2 separate regions of the Homo sapiens genome follow, and region 1 is linked to region 2. Evidence: fine-mapped expression QTL. A gene starts in region 2. The other region holds a variant in brackets. All regions are shown on one strand. Distances are from middle to middle.

Evidence for each region.
Region 1: its variant is fine-mapped to the expression of CHD3 in whole blood (INTERVAL, PIP above 0.99).

Annotation. Positions count from the first base shown.
Region 1 is chr17:7,797,644-7,805,643 of GRCh38, forward strand. DNAH2 (dynein axonemal heavy chain 2) reads left to right here. Exons shown (of 86, transcript NM_020877.5): 53 at 37-186; 54 at 514-681; 55 at 915-1,075; 56 at 1,460-1,599; 57 at 3,935-4,067; 58 at 4,235-4,374; 59 at 6,613-6,823; 60 at 7,315-7,431; 61 at 7,609-7,750. Among named protein-coding and RNA genes, the nearest start is that of KDM6B, 33 kb to the right of the region's middle. The variant C/T (reference allele first, on the strand shown) is at 3,668.
Region 2 is chr17:7,880,562-7,893,481 of GRCh38, forward strand. CHD3 (chromodomain helicase DNA binding protein 3) reads left to right here and starts at 8,228. Exons shown (of 40, transcript NM_001005273.3): 1 at 8,228-8,539; 2 at 9,103-9,215; 3 at 10,010-10,180; 4 at 10,379-10,503; 5 at 12,725-12,920. The coding sequence starts at 8,440. It also overlaps a transcript of NAA38 not described here. RefSeq lists silencers at 4,961-5,040, 7,091-7,250 and enhancers at 5,291-5,340, 8,660-9,229.

The DNA of each region.
Region 1 (8,000 bases), 85 kb before region 2:
CATTTGTGACTCTGATCCCCTCTTCCCATGGCTCAGGGGATTTCCTGAAGGAGCCCAAGGTGTATGAAGACCTCACGGATCTGACAGTGCTGAAGACAGTCATGGAGACAGCTCTAAATGAGTATAACCTGTCACCCTCTGTCGTGCCCATGCAGCTAGTGCTCTTCCGAGAGGCTATTGAACACAGTGAGCACCTGCCACGCCTATCCCCTTCCCCATCATCTCAGTGATGGGGTATGTCTAAGGAAATAGGGGTCCCTTCCCAGGTCTCCCAAATCAAGTTCCAGAAGCTGCCTTTCTCCCTGGCCCCAGATGCCCTGTGGCAGTGTGTGTTTAACAGAGAAGGTGGAGGTTAAAAGTTGAATTGCCTCCTGGGCCTTGGGCACCAACTTCTTCTCATACCTCTTGGTTCCTCTGCTTCAGTTTCAGGGGCCCCAATCCCTAGCCTAGGGCCTGGAGGTCCCCTGAGTTTGCTCAGCCAACTCATTACCCTCACACCCACCCCACCCCCAGTCACACGGATCGTGCGGGTCATTGGACAGCCTCGGGGCAACATGCTCCTGGTGGGTATCGGGGGCAGCGGACGCCAGAGTCTGGCCCGCCTGGCTTCATCCATCTGCGACTACACCACCTTCCAGATCGAGGTCACCAAACATTATCGGAAGCAGGAGTTCCGAGATGGTACGGCTGGGTTTCTGAAATGCTAGGAATAAAAGATCAGATGCATACATTCCTGCAGTGACAAGAGAGGAGAGATGGCAGCCAGATGGGCAGACGTGTCTGGCCCGTGTTGGGTGTAGGATGGTGTCGCGTGTATGCTGCGGGGCGGGGAGGGTTCCTAAATCTCAGAAAAGGAATCAAGCCCAGGATGGGGAATCTGCAGTGAGTTTGTCCTCCTTCCCTCCCCCGGCCAGATATCAAGCGTCTGTATCGCCAGGCTGGGGTGGAGCTCAAGACCACGTCCTTCATTTTTGTGGACACCCAAATAGCTGATGAGTCCTTCCTAGAGGACATCAACAACATCCTCAGCTCAGGCGAGGTGCCCAATCTCTACAAGCCTGATGAATTTGAAGAGGTAGGATTCCTTCCACACCCTTGACCAGTCAGTTCTTTGGCCTGCCTAGCTGACCCCAGAAGGACCACAGCTCCCAGAATGTGCCACTGGCACACCCCCACTGCCACACCCCCACTGCCCACCTCAGCCCTGTAAGGTGGAAGGTCCCCTCCAGGGACCCTGGGCAGAGCTGCTTTAAAACCCACGCTTCAGAGCCAGGCACAGTGGCTTGAGCTTGTAGTTCCAGCTACTCGGGGGTGGGGGGTGCTGAAGTGGGAGGATGGTTTGAGGCCAGGAGTTCAAGTCCAGCCTGGGAAACACTTCGTCAGCCCCACCTGACCCGCTGCCCCCGCTGATTCTGCTATGGACACGCCAGCCCTCTGACCCTGGGTGGCTTCTGTCCAGATCCAGTCGCATATCATAGACCAGGCCCGGGTGGAGCAGGTGCCTGAGTCATCGGACAGCCTCTTCGCCTACCTCATTGAACGCGTGCAGAACAACCTGCACATCGTGCTCTGCCTCAGCCCCATGGGGGATCCCTTCAGGTGACTTCTGTGACATCCTTCTCTCAGCCCCTTCTGTGTGCTCCCTCACCCTGCTGTGGCCTCCTGTGCCTTCTGGAAATTAGTGTCAGGAATAACAGCAGGCTCCTCTGCCCGCCTCACCCATCTCCTTTCCTTAGGCTGTGCCTGATTTCAGGAAGTTCCTTTGGTGGACATGGGAGTCGTCCATCCTTTTTTGGCATAACTAGATTTTTGTTTGTTTGTTTTGGTGGGTGGCTTTTTGGTTTTGTTTTGTCATTGTAAATCTAATTGTGGTTAAAAACACACACACACAGGCCGGGCATAGTGGTTCACACCTGTAATCCCAACACTTTGGGAGGCCTAGGTGGGTGGATCACGAGATCAGGAGATCGAGACCATGCCGGCTAACATGGTGAAACCCCGTCTCTACTAAAAATACAAAAAATTAGCCAGGCATGGTGGCGGGGGCGCCTGTAGTCCCAGCTACTCAGGAGGATGAAGCAGGAGAATCGCTTGAACCCGGGAGGCAGAGGTTGCAGTGAGCCGAGATCACACCACTACACTCCAGCTTGGGTGACAGAGCGAGACTCTGTCTCAAAATACACACACACACACACACCCAAAATGTATCATCTTAATCGTTTCTGAGTGCAGTGCTCAGTCGTGTGAAGTACACTCACACTGTTGTGTAACAGCTCCAGAGCTTTCTCATGCTCCCGAGGCCGTACTCCATACCCATGAAACCATTGCTCCCCATTCCCTCCCCAGCTGCTGTCTCTTGAGTCTGACATCAGATGCCTCACATAGGTGGAACCATGCCGCACTTGTCTTTGTTTCTTTTTTTGTTTGAGACGGAGTCTCGCTGTGTTGCCCAGGCTGGAGTGCAGTGCTGTGATCTCGACTCACTGCAGCCTCTACCTCCCAGGTTCAAGTAATCTTCGTGCCTTAGCCTCCCAGTAGCTAGGATTACAGGTGCTCGCCACCATGTCCAGCTAATTTTTGTACTTTTAGTAGAGACAGGGTTTCACCATGTTGGTCTGGCTGATCTCAAACTCCTGACCTCAAGTGATCCACCCGCCTTGGCATCCCAAAGTGCTGGGATTACAGGCGTGAGCCACCGCGCCCAGCTACCATTTGTCTATCTGCGACTTGCTTATTTCACTTAGCGTATTGTCCTCAAGGTTCATCCATGTTGTAGCATGTGTCAGGATTTCCTTCTTTTTTTAAGGCTGAATAATATTATCTTGTATGTCTATACCACATTTTCTTGATATGACTAGATTTTTAAGGGAATTAGAAACTAGGAAGAGGGCGGAGAACTTGTGCAGGGAAGCAATTTGGATTACCTTAAAAATTTTTTTTTGTCTGGGCGCGGTGGCTCATGCCTGTTATCCCAGCACTTTGGGAGGCCGAGGCAGGTGGATCACAAGGTCAGGAGATCGAGACCATCCTGGCTAACACGGTGAAACCCCGTCTCTACTAAAAATACAAAAAAATTAGATGGGCATGGTGGCGGGCACCTGTAGTCCCAGCTACTCGGGAGGCTGAGGCAGGAGAATGGCGTGAACCTGGGAGGTGGAGCTTGCAGTGAGCCTAGATGGCGCTACTGCACTCCAGCCTGGGCGAGAGTGAAAGACTCCGTCTCAAAAAAAAAAAAAAATTTTTTTTTGAGACCGAGTCTTGCTCTGTTGCCCAGGCTGGAGTGCAGTGGTGCCATGTTGGCTCACTGCAACCTCCATCTCCCAGGCTCAAGTGATCCTCCTGCCTCAGCCTCTCCGGTAGCTGGGACTACAAGCGCATGCCACCACGGCCAGCTAATTTTCGTACTTTTTGTAGAGATGGGGTTTCGCCATGTTGCCTAGGATGGTTTCGAACACGTGGGCTCAAGGAAGCCACCTGCCTTGGCCTCCCAAAGTGCTGGGATTACAGGCACAAACTCCAGTGCCCGGCCTACCATTTTGTTTTTAATGTTTGTGATACACGGTGTACTTACCATAGCCAGGCGCTACGCTGAGCTTTTCACGTGTGACACCTCACTGAATCCCCCAACCATCCTAGTCAGCATGTATTATTATTCCCATTTTAGAGA[C/T]GAGGAAACTGGCATTCAAAGAGCTTAGATACTTGCTGGAGATCCACACCTCGAAAGTGTAGAACCAGGTTTTTCTGATGCCAGAAGCTGTTTCTAAATGCTCTGCTGAACTAGCTCTGCAGGAACAGAATTTGGACAAGGAGATACAGGAGCAAGGGGATGGGGCATTTTAGGTTCTTAGAAAGTGAGTGGATGCGTGTTGGGAAGCCAGTACCTGGAGGCTGTGTCTGTGCACGGAATTTACAGCCTCTCCAAACCCCTTCCCAGGAACTGGATCCGCCAGTACCCAGCCTTGGTGAACTGCACAACCATCAACTGGTTCTCAGAGTGGCCCCAAGAGGCCCTGCTCGAGGTGGCTGAGAAGTGCCTCATAGGAGTAGACCTGGGAACTCAGGAGAATGTGAGCCCCTCCTCCCCACCTCTCATTGCATCCCTGGCCTCCCTCTCCCCCGCCTCTCATCTCTCATCGCACCCCCGGCCTCTCTCCTTCCCGCCTCTCATCGCACTCCCAGCCTCTCTCCCACTTCCGTTTCCATCTGCCTTTTCATCCTGTGTCACTGGCCTCAGATCCACAGGAAGGTGGCCCAGATCTTTGTCACTATGCACTGGTCAGTAGCTCAGTATTCCCAGAAGATGCTGTTGGAACTGCGGAGACACAACTATGTCACACCCACCAAATACCTGGAACTCCTGTCTGGATATAAGAAGTATGAAGGGGGGCAGGGGATGTGCAGGGCCAGGGAGGCTGGTGTCTTCTGAGGGCGATGGGTGAAATGATGCTGATGTGCAAGGGCAGAGACACAAAGGCCACAGTTCTGCCCAGGAAGTTGGGAAGAGGGAGTTGGGGCTTCCCGTGGGAGGGGCTGTCTCCAGAGCCTTCTGGCTATGTCCCCCTCAGCCGCTCTCCACACCCTCTTGGCCCTTATTTTCTGGCATGAAGTTTCTCTGTCTTTTTCTGACCATAATATAACTGGAACATTGCCATAATATACCCAGTCCTTTCCTGTCTGCCTTTAATGTCTTCTAGACTTTCTACCTGTATGAGATAGAAAAAGCAAAGTGTTTTCCCTACTCTCTCACTCAACACAGTACAGTCCCTCAGCATCCGTGGGGGATTGGTTCCAGGACCTCCCACGGATACCAAAATCCACAGATGCTCCAGTCCCTGATATAGAATGGAGTATCTGCATGTAACTTATGCACGTTCCTCCCATATACTTTGAATCCTCTCTAGATGAGTTATAATACCTAATACAATGTAAATGCTATGTAAATAGTTGTTATACTGTATTGTTTAGGGAATAATGACAAGAAGAAAAAGTCTGTACATGTTCAGTGCAGATGCAAATTTTTTTGCAATTTTTTTTTTTTTAGACGGAGTCTCGCTCTGTTGCCCAGGCTGGAGTGCAGTGGCGCAGTCTTGGCTCACTGCAACCTCTGCCTCCCGGGTTCAAGTGACTCTCCTGCCTCAGCCTACCTAGTAGCTGGGATTACAGGCACGCGCCACCATGCCCAGCTATTTTTTTTTTTTTTTGTATTTTTAGTAGAGACAGGGTTTCACCATGTTGGCCAGGCTGTTCTTGAACTCCTGACCTCAGGTGATCCTCCGGCCTTGGCCTCCCAAAGTGCTGGGATTACAGGCATGAGCCACCGTGCCCAGACTTTTTTCAAATATTTTTGATCCTCTGTTGGTTGAATCCACGGATGTGGATACGGAAGGCTGGCTGTACTTCACTTCTGACACCAGATGTGGTGGGGATTTTCCCCACCCAAGCAGTTCTCCAGGGGACACTGGCTGGGTGTCCTATGATATAACTCAAGTCTGAAATGGTCTACCTGGAGTTAGAGTCAGATCGCACAGGTGGAGGGCTCAGTCCCACAATACACCCGCCGCTTCTGATGCTAACCGAAAGCCCAGTGTTTTACCTGTGTTTCTGCCTGGCCGGTTATAAATCAAGGGTTCCCACCACCCCCTTGTCAGGTTCAGTTAATTTGCTAGAGTGGCTCACAGAACTCAGGAAACACTTCACCTACTATTGCTGATTTATTGCAAAGGATATTTTAAAAGATACAAATAAGGCTGGGCACGGTGACTCACGCCTGTAATCCCAGCACTTTGGGAGGCCAAGGTGGGCCGATCACTTGAGGTCAGGAGTTCAAGAACAGCCTGGCCAACATGGTGAAACCCTGTCTCTACAAAAATACAAAAATTAGCCAGGCATGATGGCGGGTGCCTGTAATGCCAGCTACTGGGGAGGCTGAGGCGGGAGAATCATTTGAACCCGGGAGGTGGAGGTTGCAGTGAGCTGAGATTGCATCATTGCACTCCAGCCTGGGTGACAGATCGAGACTCCGTCTCAAAAAAAAAAATCAGAAATTGTGGGGCAGGTGCAGTGGCTCATGCCTGTAATCCCAGCACGTTGGGAGGCTGAGGTGGGAGGATCACTTGAGGTCAGGAGTTTGAGACCAGCCTGGGCAAAATAACAAGACGCCATCTCTACAAAAAAAGAAAGAGAGAGAGAGAGCAATAAATTGTTGCAATACTGGGCCCACATTCATTCCCATAGGGAAAAAAAACCAGGCTGGAGCTGAGGGACGGCTGCCTGCCCTGGGCCAGCCCACCTGCCTGTTCCACAGTGGGAAACAGAGGAAGATTCTCATGTAGGGGAGGTGGTGTGATGGAGACTGTTTAACAAGCTGATTCTGGTAGTGGTGTGTAGAACAAACCAGAGGAATGAGAGCCTGAAATCAAGAAGAGCCCTTGGGAAGCTGTTGGCAATGACCCAGGCAGGAAGTGATAGAATCCCGACCAGGATGGTGGGGGTAGTGTTGGTGGCAACAGAAAGGAAGGCGGACTCGAGACACACGGGGAAGGTGGACCTTACAGGACACCGCGCTTTCCGGAAGCCCCGCCTCTCCACACCCTGTCCTATTCTTTCCCCCAGGTTGCTGGGAGAAAAACGGCAGGAGCTGCTGGCCCAAGCCAATAAACTGCGGACAGGCTTGTTCAAGATCGACGAAACTAGGGAAAAGGTGCAAGTGATGTCGTTGGAGCTGGAGGATGCCAAGAAGAAGGTGGCTGAGTTCCAGAAGCAGTGTGAGGAGTACCTGGTCATCATTGTGCAGCAGAAGCGGGAGGCAGATGAGCAGCAGAAGGTCCAGGGCCCACGCCCACCCCCCGTGCCCCACTCCCACCAGTGCCGGCTACTGCGTCAGGGAACCCATGTTCCCCCCTTCTTAAATTTTCTTTAGTGACTGGGTGCAGTGGCTCACGCCTGTAATCCCAGCACTTTGGGAGGCTGAGGCAGGAGGATCACCTGAGGTCAGGAGTTCGAGACCAACTTGGCCAACATGGTGAAACCCTGTCTCTACTAAAAATACAAAGATTAGCTGGGCGTGGTGGCGGGTGCCTGTAATCCCAGCTACTCGGGAGGCTGAGGCAGGAGAATCGCTTAAACCCTGGGGGCGGAGGTTGCAGTGAACTGAGATTGCACCACTGCACTCCAGCCTGGGCGAAAGAGCTAGACTCCATCTCAAAAAAAAAAAAAAATTCTTTAGCTTTCTCTTTCATCTTTTCCACCAACACCGTCACTCCCACCTTTGCCCAAGGCAAAGACAAAAAACCCTTGTCCTTTTTTCATCCCTAGGCCGTAACAGCCAACAGTGAAAAGATTGCAGTTGAGGAAATCAAGTGTCAGGCACTGGCTGACAATGCCCAGAAAGATCTAGAAGAGGCACTGCCCGCCCTGGAAGAGGCCATGCGGGTACCAGGGGCGGGTGCAAGGATGGGAGCCAGGAACGCGAGGCCCCGGGGAAGGGAATGGGCCAGTCTTCTTTGTCCTCAAAGACTCTGGGGAAGTGGGAAGAAGAGGTGGCACCTCAGCTAGGTTCTGTCTCCAGAAGGTCCTGTCTTACCCTCACTTTATCCCCTTTTCCCCCAGGCCCTGGAGTCTCTGAACAAGAAGGATATAGGAGAGATCAAGTCTTATGGACGGCCCCCAGCCCAAGTGGAGATAGTGATGCAGGCAGTTATGATTCTTCGAGGCAACGAGCCCACATGGGCAGAGGCCAAGAGGCAGCTAGGTAAGCTAGAGACAATGAAATCAATGACTTCCACTCACCCAGTGTTTATTGATCGTCGGCTGTGCAGCAGACACTCAGAAAGATAGGGATGGATGAGGCATTGTTCTTACCCTCAAGAGCACAGGGCCTAGTAGAAAGGAGACCGCATGAATATCAGTTAAGGTTCTTTGGTTGTGGGTCGAGTGTGGTGGTTCATGCCTGTAAACCCAAGCTTTGGGAGGGCAAGGTGGGCAGATCACTTGAGCCCAGG
Region 2 (12,920 bases):
TTCTTAGGCCTAGGTCGACAACCTAAAGGATCTGGATTCACATGACCTTACAGAATTCATATAGACTAAGTGAGAAAGCAGGGCAGTCCTCTACCTACTCTGTGTGCATGTAAGCTCAGCTTACTGTTACTTATTAACAGTGCCTATATTTATAGGGTACTTTTTAGTACTACCGGTGCTTTCATGCCTTCTCCAATACACATTTCAGTGATGAAGCGACCAACAAAGATGTCTTGCTGGCATCAGACCACTTACCATGCAGAGTAGACTACATTTGGAGAGAGTAAAGCCTTCCTGAGCACTCCTCAAGTACTGGTAGTGAACGCATGCAACCAGTAACTAGTCAATCCAAAAGACACGTGCTTTGGGTAACACTTGGTAGAATCAAAAAGACCAGAGATGGCAAGCCCAGCCAAGTTAGTTAGGAGTACTGACAGACTGACAGAGGAAGGAGCATCCAGAAAAACTGGAAGAAAAGTAGGGAGGAGTACAGCAAAACACAAGCAAAAGCAAGCAAGCAAAAAGACTTGTATATGTGTAGACTTTTCTCTGGAGCAGTATCCAGGAAATGTGAAACAGTGGCTGCTTCTGAGGAGAGGAACTCCGGGACTAGGGGAGAAGGATGGGAGACAGGTTTACTTTTCACAGTACACTTTCTGTACTTTTAAAATGTTGTACCATAAGTATGTACTACCTATTTAGAAGTTAACTGGAAAAAGAAACAAAAGAAGAGAGAAAAGCAAGAAGAGACGTGGACAGCAAGAGCCTGCCAAGCAGACAGCAAAAAGGCAGGAAGGCAGCGAGAGACTGGGAAAATGGCAAAAAGACTGAGACAGGCAGACTGTCTGAGGAACCAGAAAGACAGAAAAAGAGATAACTGAAATAAAGGCAAACGTGAGAGAAGGCAGGGTAGGGGATGTGGCAAGAAGTTAGATAAGACTTTGAGGCAAAGGGGTTACTGAGAGGTTTAGGGGAGAGAGACTATCCTCATTGATGGAAGTTGGCAGAGAAGAAGCAAAGGAAGAAAAAGCTGGTAAGTATGAAGACTAAAGAGAGAAAAGCCTGAAACGGTGGGATAGCAGCAAACAGGGTAGACAGGCAAGAGAGATCTAAAGGGAGGCAAGGGAAAAGGAGGAACTTAACAGGCACAAATAAGAGAAGGAACAAGCAGAAGGGCAAGAGAAGAGGCAAACCAAGATGGGGAGCCGTGGCAGGGCCTGGAAGGTAGACAAACCGAGAGATGCAGGCTAAAAAAGTGATAGAGACAGGCAGGCGGGGAGACAGATGGCTAGAGAGAGAGTGGTGGGCAAACAGCCAGAGAAGCAGACAGACAACCAGAGAGGAAAAAGAGGCTGCCAGCCAGTCAGGGAGGAGCAGACAGGCAGGCAGGCAGACACCATAACAGGAGCAAGCAGGTAAAGAGGCAGAAATAAGGAGAGAAGAAGAAAAATCAAGAGGTCAGGAGAGAGAGAGAGAGAACAGAAAGAGATGCAGACAGGCAAAAGGGAGGATGGATGAGAGGGAGAATAAGGCAAATTAGCAAATCCACATGCAAAGCACACTCAAGAGAGAGAATGATGAGTGTTTGTATAGGGATGCACACGGCCACCTTTAGCCACCCGCACCTGCAGATCATGGCACATGTGGCAAGCAGAGGCTCTCAGTATAGGGAGAGGGCACAGAGGCAGAGAGGCTGCGGCGCACATGATGCGCAGTGTGGCCCACATACACGTGGAGACACTTCCCATACACAGTATGATCCACAGACACACACAGAAGGGGCCAGAAAGAGGGGGAGTCAGGCACACATGAGGAAGAGCCACACACAGTCAGAGACTGGAAGACAGAAGTAAGCAGAAAGAAGACAGAGATGGAAAGTCACGTAGAGGTGACAGAGCCTGAGGGTCCAAGGGATGAGAAGGATAGTCTCAGTTAAAAACAAAGACATAAATAGAGAGAAGCCCACAATATAGAAAGGGGGGGATAACCAGATGAACTAGTAAAGAGGGACAGAGAAAGAAGACAAGAGAGCAAAATCGACAGGAAAACTGGAAAAGGAGGAGGAGTTAGACTTAGTACAGAAATGATGTGGGAACCAAAGCAAGAGAATTCCAAAGGCCAGGTTAAAAAAAAAAGAGATGGAAACCAACACCCAATAAAGTGCATTAGTGTGGGGAGTGGAACATTAATAAAGAACATTTTAGCTTCATAAACAAAAATGTGCGTCATCTTCCCAGTCACTAATACTTTCTGGTTGCTGCCCACCTACCCCTCCCTCTCAGGGTGCTCCTGAGCACCGCCGAAGATGGGTGGCCAGCAGTTACACTGGAGAGGTAGAGGAATAACCCAGAGAGAAATGATTCCACAGGCATGGAATGGGAAGCAAGGGAAGGGGCAAAGGGAGATCAAAGGAATGGGAGGAAGCTAGAGTAAGAAAGGGTCAACAAGAATGAAAGAGGGTAGAACTGAGCTATTTGCCCTCCTTCCTTTGCTCCATTTGGCAAGGATCATTTTCTGTCTAGACCTCTCTGGGCAAATCTCTGTATGAGAAAGCTACTTTGGGACTCCTTTCCAACTGTCCAATTCCTGGTACCACTTTACCATAAACACTGGGGTACAGTTGGAAATCACAGGTCAGAAAGTTAGATGAAAACGCCTGGGTATAACCCCTACCTCTGCTTTTTCTCAGTTCCAGCTCCTTTCTCTTTCACGGTACCTCAGTTGCTTCTACTTTATCGGATAGTGTTGGAGATCATGGAGGGAAGGCAAATATACTGAAACGGAAGAAAAGAGAACATAATTTCACGATCTTCAGATTTGACTCTTTCCTCTTTATCCTAAAAATTTGTTGTTTACCCCCCAAATTAATTTCTCAAGTCAGTTGAATTTTACATTCTAACAATTGGAGGAGGGGAAAGCGAGGGAAAGGGGAAAAGAGTAAAGATAAAATTTATAACAATTATAAATCACTGAAAAGGCTGGGTAAAGGGGAGAATCAAACATGGACTCCTTTGAAAAAAACTCAATCATCGTATCTATTCATATCTCTCCCCCAAAAGTCACTAGGATTTCTATCACTTTTTTTAAAGAAAGCAGAAAAAAATCCAGTCCCGCTTCTCATTTAAAAGATATGTACACAATTAAATGCGTTGTGACTTCAATGAGGTATGTAGAAACAGAGTTATATATAAACATATATTTCATCTTTTTCCTTTTCAATGCCTGAAGGGGAAAAAAACCTTCACATCAAACCACTCCCTTCTGAAGTATTCAAAAAAAAAAAAGCTTTTCTTTAGAGAAGGGAGGTGGGGAGGAAGAGACTAGTAAAGAAAATAAAAAAAATTAAATCTAGTTGGACTAGTATCTAACTAGTTAACCTTTAACAATTTATGCTGATGTCAGACTGAGCATGAGTACTGATTAATGCCCCCCCTCAAATATTTTTTATAAGGGGGGAGTTAGTCACAGCAGCCATTTTTGTTTTATGCAGAAATCCTTCATGCCCCCCCAACACACACACACACACACACACACTTCAGTACACAAGGAAAATATCTCTATTAATCTGTGCACTAATCAGTTATGAAAAAGGAGAAATTTGTGGGTTTCTGGGTAAAGGCTTGGAGATGGGGGTGTAACAGGGAGGAGAATGGGGGGGTGAAAAATGAAATATTAAGCCAGCCATTTTGTTTGAAAAGGGGATTTTCCCCCCTCTCCCTTTCTTTATGGAGGGGGTGGCGGTGCTGGAGGGGGGGTTGTTTTAAAAATAATTTCAAGGCGGCCATCTTAGTGCCTCAGCTCTGAGAAATATTTCTGAGCGCCCCCCTCAGAATTTAAATATATTTAAAGCAACGGAGAGGGGGGCAGAGAGAAGTCGAAAACTTTTATATATATACATATATATATATATATATATGTATATATATATATATTTTAAATCCCCCTTTCTTGTTCTCTTGGGAGGAAAGAGAGAAGGAAAAAAAGTCTTTCCTCAATTTTTTCCAAGACAATTTTTGGGGGTGGTTTGGCCCCCCTCCTCAGACGGCGGCCCCGAGGGTGGGGGTTTCGGAGGGGGGTGGCCCGGGGGTTTGGGGGGCTGGGGGAGGCGGTGAGGAGGAGGAGGACGCCGCCGCCGAGGAGGAGGAGGAGGAGGAGGAGGAGGAGGAGGAGGAGGTGGTGGTGGTAGCGGTGGGGGAGGCGGGCGGGCGGTGGGTGGGGGGGTGGTGGGGGGGCCAGAGCCACAGGATGGCTTCCCCTCTGAGGGACGAGGAGGAGGAGGAGGAGGAGATGGTGGTGTCGGAGGAGGAAGAAGAGGAGGAAGAAGAGGGCGACGAGGAGGAGGAGGAGGAGGTGGAGGCGGCCGACGAGGACGATGAGGAGGACGACGACGAGGGAGTACTCGGGCGCGGGCCGGGCCACGACCGGGGCCGCGACCGCCACAGCCCCCCCGGCTGCCACCTCTTCCCGCCGCCGCCGCCGCCGCCGCCACCGCTGCCCCCGCCGCCGCCGCCCCCGCCGCCAGGTAAGCGCCCGCCCCGACTCCCCCCCCAAGCCCGAGTGGGAGCCGCGGGCGCGCGAAGCCGGGCGGGGGCGAGGCACCCACCGCGCGGCCGAGCCGAGGCGAATCCGGAGCGCGAATCCGGGGCTCGGGCCCGTGGCCCCGCGGCGGTCCGGGAGGTCGGGGCGGGCGGTGGCGGCTGCGACCGCGGGGCCAGGCCTCCTCCCCTCCCCCGCCGCACCCCTCCCCCGCCGCCGCCGCCGCCGCCGCCGCCGCCGCCGCCGCCACCCCGGCTGGAGAGCGCTGGGCGCGAGCTGCGCGCGCGGACCGGGCCACTCGGTCGCGGCTTTCGGGGGAGGAGGAGGAGGAGGTTTTTTTTTTACCCTCGGCGGGGAGGGGGTAGGCAGGAAACGGCCAAGGCGAAGCCAGGGCCCCCTCCCTGGCCGAGCGAGGGACCGCCGAGACCCTGGCGGCCGGACGGCGGCGTGGGGGAGGGGCACGTGGGGGAGGGGCGGCCGCGCGAGCGCCCCTCGGGCTCTGGCCCCGGTGGGGTTGGACCGAGGGAGAGTGGGGTTTCCCCGCACGGAGCAGCCGACGGGCCTGCCCCCTCCGCTCAGGACTTGGACAGGCAGAGTGGGGACGGTGTCCATCGGACCCCCCTCCACCCGCGGAGACTTAGGTGCCCGCCAACTGAGGGGCATGCGGTGGCACGCGAGGGAGGGGTCTTGTGAATGTTTGTGGGCTGCTGATGAGTAGGGGCAGGTGGTGGCCACAGTCCACGCAGACCACTTCCTGGAATAAGGCAGGAGCTCGTCCCCTCGCTCCCCCAGCCTGTGCAGGGACAGCAGTCCATTCGGATTGGGGAGCGGAGAGAAGAGTGTCTGGGGAACCAGATACCCCCGGCTCCACCCCCTTCATCTCGCCGGGGCTCTGGGCTCTTTTGTGTCAAGTGCGGTGGGGGGGGTCCCCCTCTTGACCCCGTCAGTCTGGGGTGGCCAAGCTGCCCAGCTGTGACTCTCACGTGGCTGCCATTCACTGTCACTCACTCTCTCGCTGAAACCACCCACTCCCTGAGCACGTTGGGGGGCGTGAACTGCCCACCCAGCTGTTCTGCAGCTTGACCATCACTCAGCACCCGTCCCCCGAGGTGACAAGTCACCCGGCGGCACTCTCTGGGCGGCGCTCTCCAGACCGCTGCGCCGCGTCAGGCGCCCAGCGGTGTCCCCCTCAGACCACCCTCCTAGTGGAGTGATTTCTAGTCTTCTTTGGGATAGGTGAGCATCTGGGTGTCCACACCCCCTGCTTGGGGAACAGCAGGGGGACCTCCGCACCCCCGGGCCTCTGGCTGCCATGCGGCACAAATGCACCAAACTTCAAAACGGCCAACTCCGGGCTCTTTGTAAAACTGTCATATTGATCCGTGTGGCTTCTGTGGCAAACGTTCCTGTCTAGCCGAGACGACCTTTGGGGGAGCGGGGGGTGCTTTCTTGTGGGTCGGGGAGGGATGTGTGTCTCCTGGAAACTGGATAAAGTCTCCCCGCCCCCCAAGCTTGTCTGAAAAAGGGTAAAGTTTTGAAAAAGTTCTCCCAGAGAGCCCCCTGCCTTGGCAGGAGGAGGAGGAATGAGGAGTTGTGGGGAGAGGGTGCCTTTGGGGTTGCCTCCGGCAGAGGCGCTGAAAAGAGGGAAAGAAAGGCCGTCAGGTCCTGCCAGGGGCTTGGCAGCGCTCACCTATTTGTATTGGGACTTGGAGTCTGGGGTGGGGTGGTGTGGGTCCCGGATCTGGGTACGTTGGGGAGAGAAGCGTGAAAGGATCCGAGGTTGAGATGGGTCTTTGTGTCAACCCGGCCTCCCCTTTCCCTCTTGGCTTTCTGAATAGACCAGAAGAGACGTCAGAGGCTGCTTACATTTTACAACTGAAATGAAAACCCACCTCCCCTCTCCCCCTGGGCAATTTTTATCTCCCTTTCAGCCCTCCAAGTCGAATGAGTGACCCAGATACACCCCCTCAGATGACTTTCGGAGGTAAAACTTCGGGAAATTATTTTTAGCACACTCATTATTTCTGTCTACCTAAGTGTGGGGAAAAGAACCCTCCTCTAAGGAAATTTGTTCAGGCTGCCCTCGCTCTTCCTTGTCTAGAGTATGCATTTGTGCACAGGAGAGATTTCCATTGTTTTCCATTCCGACTGCTTTGATTCTCACCATTTTGTTTTACATTCTTACTCAAGACCAATTTTATCCCTTCCCCCTCTCTCCAGTCTCCTTACATTGTTAAACGTTTAAAATAATAGCAGTCGTGTTGGTGGGGGAAGGGAGCAGGAAGCCAAAAACTCATTTCTTCTCCCTCCCCCTTCTGGCAAGTCGAGAGAAATAATATAACATAATATATAGATGTGATTCCTTGGGGGTGGGGGTGGGGAATGATTGTGGGTGGTGCGGAAAATTCTGGTAGTTTCTTTGCAAAAGGTCTGAAAATACAAACCCACCCCCTGCCTGCAGTACGCATGTGCAGCAGACCTATTATGGTGGTGCGTTGTGGGGGAGGGAGGGGAATTTGAGAAAAAATAAATATATGTGTGAGAGATTGATGGTGAGATTAGAAGAAGAGAGGGGCGGGCGGGAGGCGAGGCTTCGGCCGAGACTCCTCCCGCTTGCTCGGGCGGCCAGGCTCCGCCCTGCGCCCTCCGGCCCCCGCCTCTCTCCTCCCTGCCTCCCTGAGATCCGAGCCGGGGATGTGGGAGAGTCTGGGCTCCAGGCCAGCATTGAGTGGCTGCTGAGACCGAGGTTGGGACTTAGATTTGCTTTATTACCCTTCCTTGCTTTTCCTTGCCGTTCTCGCTTTGCCTCTCCCGCCACCGACGCCTGCCCAAGTTCGGGAACCTCCCGCTGGGGTGGGGAGTAGAGTGAACCGGCTTGTGCACCACCCCTGGCTGGTGGTGGCCGAGGCCGTGTCCCTGAACCTTAGCCAGTTGGCCTGCCCTTGCCACTGCCTCGGCAGCCTGCGTTTCCATGTTCAAGTCAACCGAAGTCCCTGGGGCCAGGGGGAGCCGGCTGCTGGGGCATGGCGCCTTCCTTGCTGACTTCCTATTACAGTCCCCATTCCGTTTCACACCCGGGCTCTGGCAGCCACCCCCCTGCACACACGCACACAGTCCTAGAGTGTCTTCCTGCACAAGGGGACACAGGATGCTGGAGTTAGCAGGAAAGGTGGCACTGAAGGAAGGCGAGGCAGCGACTCTGAGGCAGTGGAAACGGAGGCCTCTGGTGTTAATTGTGGCTAATTTTCCGTTGGCTGTTGAGGGAAGGAGAAAGGATTGTGTGTCCTAGAGCTAGGGGCTGGGCCAAGCCCAGGCTTTCCCATCTTGCATCGGCTGCCTCTCTCTGTACTAGACAGGTCTGGCTGGTTAGTCTAGTGCTTGGTAGGGGAGGGACGTGAACCAGAGCCCCAGGGCCCCAGGTCTGTGGGGCATCCTGTCTTCCTTTATGTGGGGTAACTCTCCGTTCCGTTCCCCAAGCCTTCACAGAGTGACACCTTCACAGATAATGGGGTGGGGGGCCTGGGGTCCTCTGGCAGAGACATCTGGGGAGAAAGCCAGGGACCTATCCCTGCTGAAGCAGGTACAGGCCATCCTCTGGATTTGTGGGCCTGAGAGTGTGTGTGGGTGTGGGTGCGCGCGTGCGCGCGCGTGCTTTTGAGAAGGCATATGCTGGGTGTGTCTGTCTGTGCCTATATCTTTGTTTGGGTCTCCCATACTGCGTATAGATGAATGGGTCAGGATATCTGGAACAAAATATGGAGGTGAAGGGTGAGATCGGGAAACAAAGGGTATGGCCCCCTAGTTCCCAAAGGGAGCAGGGAGATGGGAATAGAATTGAAGGTAGGTTTTAGGCTACTTGGGAGGAGGAATATTTAGGTAATTGTGGAGACTTTCTCCTGTGTGATGAAGGCGGCAGACACTGTGATCCTGTGGGCAAGAAGTAAAAATGACCAGCTGAGGATTTCTTTTCCTCCAGGACTGTGTTGGGGTGACAGGATGCCTGGTAATTATCCGAGGAAATGTAAATAGAGGCCTCCCTCTTGGCAAAAGGATGTCAGGGCCCCAGGGTGTTAGTGTGAGAACCCAGGTGTCCACCTTTGGCTCTCCCTCCCCAGCATCTGGCTTAGGGAGCTGCCAGCTTGTGTCTCCCCACTCCAAGTGCTGGGGTCAGGCCAGGCCAGCAGCTGGGCATGGCTTCCCCAGTTCCTGGGCAGGATGCCAGCTGGCGAAGTGAGGGGGAAGGCAGGAGGAGCCCTGGCGGTGACTGAAAGGACCTGCCACAGTCAGAGCCCATGGCCTGGAGCCTGGTCTCTTGTTAGTAGGAGGGGAGGGAGGGGAGTGGTTTGGCTGCTCTTCTCTTCTGACCCCTGACCTCCCATTCAGAACCAGAGCATCCCAGAGTACTCGAAACACTTTCTGTTTGCATCCAGTGAAGGGAGGCAGGGCTTGGAGGAGTTAATGCTTCCTAGAGAGTGGGAACTGCCGAGGTGGGGAAGGGGCAAGTTGAGGGGCCTCAGAGGCTGGAAACCTAGAGGCTTAGGTTTTCTGATGCTTTTTGCTTCAAAGATAAGGATGACATTCGGCTGCTGCCGTCAGCATTGGGTGTGAAGAAGAGAAAACGAGGACCCAAGAAGCAGAAGGAGAACAAGCCAGGAAAACCCCGAAAACGCAAGAAGCGTGTAAGTGTCAAGAATTCCTAACTCTGTGGCAAGGCTCAAGAGACCCATTCTCAGAGACCTACATTTTCTCTGGTCCTGATTACTGGTGTGGGGGTGGGGTTCTGAAGCCAGGGAGGCTTGATCCCCCGGGCCCCCCACTTCCCTGCCACTGTTGGCCTGTATCTCAGGGATCTGGGACCCTAACTTCATTCACTGCAACCTAGTGAAGAGCCTCGTTGTCAGTGTGTCCTCAGCAGCAAAGAGAAGCAGTTGAAAGCACAAGCTCTGGAAGACTGTATGAATTCAAGAGTCCAGCATTCCTCTGTCTAGGATACCAGGCCGTTTATTTGGCTCTCTGTGCCTTAGTTTCCTCATCTGTAAAAAGTAGATAAAGGCCGGTTGCAGTGGCTCACGCCTGTAATCCCAGCACTTTGGGAGGCTGAGCCGGGTAGATCATTTGAGGTCAGGAGTTCGCGACAAGCCTGGCCAATGTGGTGAAACTCCGTCTCTACTAAAAATACAAAAATCAGCCGGGCGCGGTGGTACGTCTGTAATCCCAGCTACACAGGAGGCTGAGGCAGGAGAATCGCTTGAACCCGGGAGGTGGAGGTTGCAGTGAGCCGAGATCACGTCAGTGCACTCCAGCATGGGTGACAGAGCAAGACTCCATCTCCAAAAAAAAAAAGGAGATAAAAAATTAGTTACTATCACAGGATTGTTGTGAAGATTAAAAGAGGTAAGATATGGTATGTGCTGAGAACAGTTTCTGGCAATGGTAGGGATGAATAAATGTTATTTTTATTTCTTTCTCTTAGGACAGTGAGGAGGAATTTGGTTCTGAGCGAGATGAGTACCGGGAGAAGTCAGAGAGTGGGGGCAGTGAATATGGAACCGGACCGGGTCGGAAACGAAGAAGGAAGCACCGAGAAAAAAAGGAGAAGAAGACAAAGCGGCGGAAAAAGGGGGAGGGAGATGGGGGGCAAAAGGTGAGTAGAATTAGGGAATGAGAGTGAGAAATCTGCATTAAAGACGGGCATGAGGAGGGGAGGAATGGAGACTGGACTGGAGAATGGGGCAAGAAGCAAGAAAGCCCAGGGAAGCTAGTGGGTAGGTAGACAGGCCTGTGTGCGGCCTGGAATAGGGGCTGGAGGAGCACCTACTTCACCAAAGCCCCTCTCCCGCAGCAAGTGGAACAGAAGTCATCAGCAACTCTGCTTCTGACCTGGGGCCTGGAGGATGTGGAGCATGTGTTCTCTGAGGAGGATTACCACACGCTCACCAACTACAAAGCCTTCAGCCAGTTCATGAGGTGCGGTAAGACTGGGGAATCCTCGCTAATTGACACTTTTAATTTGAGGGAGGTCCTGGACCCCTTGGAATCTGATGAAAGCTATGAAACTGCTCTCCAGAGAATTCACGGTGTATACACACCAAATTCTACACGTCATTTCAGGGAACTCCTAGACTCATAAGGATCCAAGAACCCCAGTTGAGAACTCTTCACTGAGGGGCGAGGGGTGGAGGGGCCATCATGATTCCAGTGCTGGGTTAGAGAACTCTTTAGCAACAGAATAAAGTGAGGACAGAATATAGTGAGCCCTCCCCTGCCCCAACAGCTCCATCTTCTGCTCTGTGACTTCTCTCTAGACTGGACCTGAGAGATACCATCAGTGTTCCTGAACTTCCTTAGCTCACTTAGCAGGTCCTGTGCCCCTTCCTTAGGCCCTGGTAATAATGGAGGGTCCACTGCTGGCAGTGGGACCTGAGCTTCAGTGGCTCCTGAAGAAAAGTAGAGAATAGTAGAGTAGAAAATAGCAGAGATGGGCCAGGTGCAGTGGCTCATGCCTGTAATCCAAGCACTTTGGGAGGCCAAGGCAGGTGGATCGCCTGAGGTCAGGAGTTCAGGACCAGCCCATCCAACATGGTGAAACCCCGTCTCTACTAAATACAAAAAAATTAGCTGGGCGTGGTGGCACATGCCTGTAATCCCAGCTACTCGGGAGGCTAAGGCAGGAGAATCGCTTGAACCCGGGAGGCAAAGGTTGTAGTGAGCCGAGATCACACCACTGCTATGCTCTAGCCTGGGCAACAAGCGAAACTCCGTCTCAAAAAAAAAAAAAGAAAAAATAGTGCCGATGTATTTTGTTTTGGGGAGAAGGCACTTTAACATATCAGTTCAGTGCTCTGGAGGCAGCTGCTGAGGTTCACATCTGGTTACATTTTGGGCAAGTGACTGAACTTCTTCAATCCTCAATTTCCTCTTCTATAAACGGGGAATAATAATATATACCTCATAGGAATCTGTGTGGGTTTGGTGGGATAATGAATGGAAAGCACAGTACCGTCAGTGCCTGGCTCCTAGGGAGCATTCAGTAACTGGTGACTGTCATTAGTAACGTTGTCTCACCTACCTTACTGCTGAACTTGGGGCTTTTCTCAGCACCATGGATCACCCGTGTCCGCACAAGAGTTGAGCACCCCACCCCAGAGCAGAACCAGCATGGTCTGACTCTTTCACACTCCGTCCTACGGAAGCCCATCTTCAGGGCCCATGGAACTTACTAGTAAAATGCAGAGAATCATAGCAACTCAAGAGTATTATTGTGAGGACAAGATAAGGTGGAATGTATGTGAAAGGGTTTTATGAACTGTAAAGTAGTATACAAAAGTAAAGCATTTTTGTTGATTTTATTTTAACCTTTTATGCTTTTAAGTTTTATTTCGCTGTTTTTTATTTCCCCTTTTTTTTTTTTTTTTTTTGAGATGGAATCTCACTCTGTCGCCAGGCTGGAGTGTAGTGGCGCAATCTTGGCTCACTGCAACCTCTGCCTCCCAGGTTCAAGCAATTTTTCTGCCTCAGCCTCCCGAGTAGCTGAGACTACAGGTGCGCACCACTACACCCAGCTAATTTTTGTATTTTTAGTAGAGACGGGGTTTCGCCATGTTGGCCAGGATGGTCTCCATCTCTTGACCTCGTGATCCTCCCACCTTGGCCTCCCAAAGTACTGGGATTACAGGCGTGAGCCACTGCGCCCAGCCTATTTCCCTTTTTTTAAAGACAGGGTCTCATTCTGTCACCCAGGCTGCACTGCAGTGGTGTGATCATAGCTCACTATATCCTCCAACTCCTGGGCTCAAGCCACCCTCCTGCCTCAGCCTCAGGTGCTGCCACACCCAGCTAATTATTTTTTTTTATTTTAATTTTTTGTAGAGACAGGATCTCACTTTGTTGCCCAGGCTTATCTCATAGCCCTGGGCTCAAGCAATCCTCCTGCTTCAGCCTGGAATTACAGGCATGAGCCACCGTGCCTGGCCTGTATTTCTTTTTTAATGCTTTTTTAAACCTGTTCTTTCCCCGCTTTTTTTAAACTTCTTTTTATTTATTTTTTTAAATGGCTGTTTTTCCTAATAGGACATATTCTCACCACCCAGGAATCCTAGCATGTACATAGATTTAATTGATGAGGGGAGATGGCAGTGTTCCCAGACCATCTGTGAAGGGTCCGAGTTTTCTGCTTCTATATTTACAGGCCCCTAATTGCTAAGAAGAATCCTAAGATCCCAATGTCTAAGATGATGACCATCCTTGGGGCCAAATGGAGAGAGTTCAGTGCCAACAACCCCTTCAAGGGGTCAGCAGCTGCTGTGGCGGCGGCAGCGGCAGCAGCAGCAGCAGCTGTAGCTGAGCAGGTGTCAGCTGCTGTCTCGTCGGCCACCCCCATAGCA